Homo sapiens: one gene and its partner. The protein of the gene in region 2 purifies or fractionates together with the protein of the main gene of each other region. This does not show direct contact. Each region holds a gene or a part of one and is shown on either strand. Other genes may lie near its edges.

Evidence for each region.
Region 1: the proteins of KMT5C (region 2) and POC1B purify together in Homo sapiens (affinity purification with mass spectrometry; one large-scale study listed by BioGRID and IntAct). This does not show direct contact.

Annotation. Positions count from the first base shown.
Region 1 is NC_000012.12:89,466,896-89,470,547, forward strand, and holds part of POC1B (POC1 centriolar protein homolog B), read right to left. Parts: intron 3,600-3,652; coding exon 3,466-3,599; intron 791-3,465; coding exon 722-790; intron 28-721; coding exon 1-27. Other genes in the region: POC1B-DUSP6 readthrough, read right to left, coding at 1-27, 722-790, 3,466-3,599.
Region 2 is NC_000019.10:55,345,707-55,348,731, reverse strand, and holds the end of KMT5C (histone-lysine N-methyltransferase KMT5C), read right to left. Parts: intron 2,520-3,025; coding exon 2,383-2,519; intron 2,233-2,382; coding exon 2,045-2,232; intron 1,777-2,044; coding exon 1,283-1,776; 3' UTR 611-1,282; downstream 1-610. UniProt on the Homo sapiens protein: Histone methyltransferase that specifically methylates monomethylated 'Lys-20' (H4K20me1) and dimethylated 'Lys-20' (H4K20me2) of histone H4 to produce respectively dimethylated 'Lys-20' (H4K20me2) and trimethylated 'Lys-20' (H4K20me3) and thus regulates transcription and maintenance of genome integrity.

The DNA.
Region 1 (3,652 bases), on a different chromosome or scaffold from region 2:
ATCAAAGTTAGTCCTCCATAATAAGACCTATGAAAAAAGTCAATGATGTTGGCAGTTATTGACTTGCATGTACAAGCAATAGAGCTGATTTTAAAACCCACAATATACAGAATTGTCTCCCAAAGTAGGAAGGGTAGATATATATTTCAACTATGTTACTATTTCTCAATATCTTTTTTTAAGGTGTGGTTGAGGGAGAGATTTAACATTTTGAATTGCCTTCATGTCTGGTTTAAAATTCATATTAAGAAAATATCTGGTTATCTTAAAATCCTCTTTTTTTTTGGTCAAAGCCCAAAACCATGTTTTGGACTGGTCATTCACTTTATTCAATAAATCTGGCCATGAATGACTTTTGGTCATTTCAGATAAATGCAGATTTGGTATATAAATGATTTATATTTACCATCCTCAAGAAGCTTAAGATAAGGCAATGATTCAAGCAAAAGTGCTATATAATTACTGAAAGTGGACATATAGTGTCAGTTACATGTATAGTTAAGTGTAAAATGAGCAAAAGAAAATAACTATTTGAGTTCCCAAAATTTAGAACTGGCTCTGTTTCAGCTATGAGATAGCAGACTTCATGGTACTAATTAAAATATAAACTCATTGACAAACATCTTAACATACACAAACTAGCTGGTTGTAAAACTCTTAGCTGAGGTCAAGGATTCCTTTACCTTAACCAAATCAAAGAGGAGCTGAAAGATTTACAAACCTGTGTGTCTGCACCTCCTGATGCAAATAGCTCTCCACCTTTTGAAAATGAAACAGTAAAGACAGGTCCCTGAGAAATAAAGGGAAATAAAGAAAAAAAGTACTTGGTAATGCTTTCTCATGGCCAAGAAGACTATGGATATCAATTTCTCATCCTAATTTATGCATACTACTCATGCAATAAGTCTAATAAAACACATCAGTTGCTAGCAACTAATGCTGGCAGAGTGAAGATAATCAAAGAATCAACCCAATCATATTAAAACACAAATAAATGATACTAAAAAAATACTAAAAATTAATTAAAAAAATAACTTTTTTCTCCTTTCAAGAAAAGCTTTTACATATGTAAGTTCATAAGAATTTCTGTTAAGATTTTCTGGCTTTGGACTCTGTATTCAACCAATCACTAGCAGAAACTGAATGATAAATATGTAGGTAATGGGAATGAGGCTATTTACATGAAGTCCATTTCCTGACCAATGGGCTTCACTGAGTTCCCCCTTCATGTAGGCAACCATAAACCACTAAAAGTTTAAAGAGCAGAACACAGATAGGAGGAGAGCTGTGAATGATTAAAATCAGTATCACAATTCTGAGAAAGATGAATTGGAGTAAGATGCTTGGTTGGAGGCCAGTTAGGAAGTTCCTGTAATTATCTAGGTGAGAGGTAATGAAAACCTGAAATTGAGCAGTTACTGCGGAGTTGGACAAGACTGTGCTTGGCACAGTCACAAGATGGATAGCCTCTAGGTCAATTTTTCAGTCCAGATAAGAGTAAGTATTTCTTATCTCAAAAATATTAATATATACCATATGTTTTTAATATGTCCTTAATCTGTACAAGAAAAGTTTTAGGGAAAAACATCTTGTATTTTCCCAAGTAGACTATCCCACAGATTTAGTTTATAATATTAATAGCTTCATAAACACCTTTACTTCCAGACTAAAATTCCATCTTCATGTAGTGTTTTCCTACTGAAAGACTGTGTTTATCTTTTTTCCCTATTATTTTGTACTTTTTTCATGGATATTTCAATCCTTGGCCACTTTTATTTGTTATGTTTATTCAGCCTAAATCCATGGATATGCATATATTTAAGCTGGTTAGTATTTATTTCTGCTTTACCCTAACACCACTGCAGAATAAATGATAACGCAAAGCAGGAAGCCAGGCAGAACCTGTGAAAAAGAAACTCTTCTCTTCTAGACCACAAGGCTCATTCTATTTCTAGATATAAACAGCTTATACTTGTTAAAAGGAAGTACCTCAAAAAAAAAAAGAGGATGCATTCTAAAAAATTCAGAGAAGTTTGAATATTGTCTGGAAGAAAAGACTAGTTTATATACTCAAAAAAATTTATCTAGGCTGGGCACAGTGGCTTACACTTGTAATCCCAGCACTTTGGGAGGCCAAGGCAGGCAGATTACCTGAGGTCAGGAGTTCAAAACAAGCCTGGCCAACATGGTGAAACCTTGTCTCTTCTAAACAAACAAACAAACAAAAAATTAGCTGGGCGTGGTGGTGCGCCTGTACAGAAGGCTGAGGTAGGAGAATCACTTGAACCCAGGAGGCAGAGGTTACAGTGAGCCGAGATTGTGCCACTGCACTCCAGCCTGGGTGACAGACTAAGAATCCATCTCAAAAATAAAGAAATAATAAATTTAAAAAATTGATCTATATGCCAGGGAGGGATCTTTGAACAGGCTCAATAAAAGGCACCCCTCTTACCTACTTGGTTCTAAACCAATTGAGAAATAAGACAAAGGAATACAGCACATAAGAATCGAAATATCACCTTTCTTTCTAATAAATGCTTGTAAAAAGAGAATGTGGCTTTTATGTGTAACACAAATAGGCTTTCTAGAACGGATGCCCAGAATGAGTCACAGGCAACACTAGACAAGGGCAGGTCTCCCCACAAGGAATATCAGAGAAAAACAGTGAAGAATGGCTACTCCCAAAGGCAGGAGAGTAGAAGGTGTTAGGCTGTGCTTACCCAATTTCTCCTAAACCCACCAACAAATTAGCAGAAGGAGTGAGGGAGAGGTGTGAGAGGCTGGGTGTCAGGGCTAAGCGGGACAGCCTCCACATGAAGGAAGGATCTGAAGTATGGAATCTACTTACCCATCACCATTTACCCAGTCAATCTATACAACATACTGATAAAGACAGCAGGAGAAGATTCATTTAATGGCCATTGAAAGATACACATTGATTTTGATAAGAATTACAACAAATAATATTTCTTTTTTTCTTCCATTTTTTTTTTTTGACAGTCTTGCTCTGTTGCCGGGCTGGAGTGCAGTGGTGCAATCTCAGCTCACTGCAGCCTCCCCCTCCTGGGTTCAAGTGATGCCCCTGCCTTAGCCTCCCAACCAAGTAGCTTGGATTACAGGCATGTGCCACCACACCTGGCTAATTTTTTGTATTTTAGTAGAAATGGGGTTTCATCATGTTGGCCAAGATGGTCTCGATCTCCTGACCTCAGGTGATCTGCCCGCCTCAGCCTCCCAAAGTGTTGGGATTACAGGCGTGAGCCACCACGCCCAGCCACAAATAATATTTCTAAGAGTTGCTTCCAGAGGATAAAAACAGCCTTGGAAGTAAAAAAATTTTATGATAGCAGCAATGTGTGCTATGTCTGGAAAAACAATAAAGGGACATAAAAATGGATCAGAAATTTAAAATATATATTATTTTATATTTTTATATATAAAAAGCAAGAATCTGAGTGTTAATACCGTATGTCCTTGAAGTGTATAGATGAGCCTTCCTTCTAAGAGGTCCAGAATCTTAAGGGTACCATCTGAAGAAGCTGTGATGAGATAGTTACCCGAAGGATGGAATGATATGCAATTAACTCCACCGCTGTGAACTGATTTGTAGAAAATAAAAGCAAAAAGTTCAGAGAACAATTCTTACTTTTGA
Region 2 (3,025 bases):
ACAGTCAGCCGCTGTTATTTCCTTTTGCAAAACGAGACAGCAGGCAGAGCTAAGACGCCCTGGCAAAATCCAGATCCTGGAGCGGACCTGAAGAAACAAGATTCATCTTCCTGGTCTCACACACGGCAAAGCCCAAGATGCCACAGCTGAGGAAGGTCCTGTCAGCGCCGCCTCCCCCAGGCTCGGCTCTGGTGTCCTGGGCAGCCCCCACACCCTCACTCAGCCAGGCCCCCAGCAGTCTCTCTCCGTTTGGAGTGAGATGTGGGAGGGGCATCTCATTGAGAAGCGCGAGAAGGGAGAAGGGCCCTCAAGTCCCCACGTGGCCTTGGCAAGTCACTCTGCTTGCTAAACGATGTTGACCTCGCCTGGAAAATGGGAGGACCCACTCCTAGGAGAGTATGGGTCTCAAGGCATTTTTACAAGCACAGCCTGAGTGGGGATGGGGCTCCAGCCTCAGTCCCCTAGTCCATCACGCTCCCAAATCCCTCTCCCGACAGCTCTCAGGGCTGAAGGCCTGTGTTGCCTCCTCCCCCTCTCATCAGCACAGCTGAGGGTCTCACCCTCCTCACATCCCTTCAAAACATAAGCCAAAACAAAAAACCGCCAAGGGTGCTGCTTATAACAAGGTTTTAATAAAATAAAAAGTTCAAGTGCTTCCAAGCCCCCAACATACCCCTTTCTGGTGTGGGGGAGGGGAGGGAGCTCCCCACCCCAATAGCACCAGGATAGCACCATGAGAAAGATGAGGTCACACCCGGCCTCCCTGAGACCCACGGGGGGTGGTGAGGGGAACATGCCTCCAGACACCCCCCAACCTTCCCCCCACCGCAGACAGCTGCAGAGCTGAGAGCGAACCCAGTCCCCTCGTGAGGGCAGTCTCTGGGGAGTGCCACCCCCTACATCAGTTCCACCTCCTCCTGAGGCCTGTACTTCTGGGGAGATGCCGTGGGGTGGCCCCTGCCCCTTATGGCTTTGCTCCCTGGGGAGGAAGGGGCTGAGGGGGGCGGATGGCTCCTGCAGTCCTGAGGCTGGGGCAGGGGTGGGGAGGGCAGCAAATGGCCGGGGCTCCCTGTGGGAGTGGGGGTGGCTCAGGGGTCAGCAGTCACAAAGGGTCAGGGCTCAGATCCCTGGGGGTGTCCAAACCAACCCCATTCCAGGGTCAGAGCTATGCTGGAGTCAAGGGTCAGCTCCCTCCCAGAGGTCCAAGGGCTCCTTCTGGAGGTCCTGGGTAGCAGCTAGGAGAGAGACCCTCTCTCCCTGCTGGGCCTCCCCGTCCGGCCTGTCACAGCTCTTCACCGCCGACATCCAGGTCGATGGAGCCGTGGCTGACCACCAGCCGTAGGCGCTTGGGTGGGGAGAAGGGGGCGAAGGCGAGGGCCTGCTTCGGGATCAGGATGGGGCCTGGGGTCCCAGCAGGGGCTGGGGTAGCTGGTGGGGCTGGGGCCAGGCGACGAAGGTCCACACGCACCACGTAAGGCAGCCCATAGCGCCGGGCCCAGTGCCAGTCCTGCTGAGGGGCCCAGCGGGCGTGGGGGGGCTGGCCCAGGGCCACCAGGGCCTCTCCTCGCAGGCGGCAGTGGGGGCCACAGCCTCCCCATCGGTGCAGGGAGACGCGGGCAGCGTGGTGGGTGGAGAGCACTGGGGCCCTCCGGGGCCGGGGGCGTCGGCGCTTCCGGGGCCGCACTCGGGGCTGGGGCTGAGGCAGCCACTGGAGCCAGAGGGGTGAGGTGTCTGGGCGGGCGCTGCAGGCTGGCAGGCGCAGGGGCTGGCAGGCGGCTGTGAAGGCCCAGGTGGCAGGGAGAGGAGGAACAAAGGAGAGGTGAAGTCAGTGCAAGCTGGGCCGGTCCTCCTCTGGACAAGGAGGCAGCCCTGCCCTGCGCTCCCCAGAGGAATGATGCGGCCGAACTGCTCAACAGCGAGGCCTGCCAGCGACTGAGGGTGGGAGGGAGGGTTCCAGGCTAGGCAGAGAGCTCAGAAGAAAGGAGACAGATGACCAGGAGCAGACAGGGGAGGGGCTGCTGGGATGGCAGGGAGGGGTGCTCACCGCAGAATGGGTCCCGGCGCAGCGGGGATGGGTGCACGCAGGCCCGAGGGCCCAGCAGGCCCTGTCGGCTGCCACTGTCCAGGCCTTGCTGCAGCCGCCGCTTGGTCTCACGCAGCTGGTACTTGTCCAGGGGCCGTGGTGGCAACGCGGGCTCCCTAGGCCTGGTTCGGAAAGCTCCTTCACCTTTCCTGGGAGACCGGGTGAAGGGGAGATGAGGCCGGGTGGAAGGGAGATGAGAGGCTGGGGTTGGACACACTCAGGGATGGGTCCCGAGGGTGCGTTTCTGGGCTCAAGAAGCCCAGACGACCCGAACCCAGCCGCCTCTCGCCCGGTCCCACCTCTCACAGGTGTGGCATTCACAGTGCTCATTCTTCTCGCCGAAGAAGCCCTCGCCGTAGAAGCATGTCACCTCGTCCCCAGGCTCAATGTCCCGGAGCACCTTCACGCAGGCTGCGTTCCCATCTGCAGGCACAAACTGAGGGCCAAGCCCACTCAGCGCCCTGGCCCAGGGCACAGGGGAGGGCTCACCCACTCCCCACACCTGGCCGGGCACCCTGGCCCGGAGCGTCCTCTCCTGGAATGGGGCAACAGCTGAGCCCCTAAAAGTGGCATTCCGAGGCGGCTGCCTTGCCGAGGGCCTGTCCTTTGCCTGTAGCCCCTGGACAATCCACCCACTGGCTGGTTTCCACCCCTCCCTGCAGGACGATGATCTAACCTGACCTTCTGGCAGCGTGCAGTGCCAGCAGTGGTGACCACTCCCTCCAGCCTCTGTGGCCCCGTGCCAAGCCCCACCTCCTCTGCCACACCCAAGCCCATCCCCTCCTGAGCTGCCTGCCCCCCGCCAGACTGTGCCTTGGCAGCTGAGGTCCGAGCTCTGCCTGCTGCGGGCCGCCCCCGCTTCTCTGAGGCCTGCCTCACTCCACAGCCCAATCTGTGTGTGCTCTGGCCCTGCCTTTGGGATCATTCACCCAGGAGCTGCCC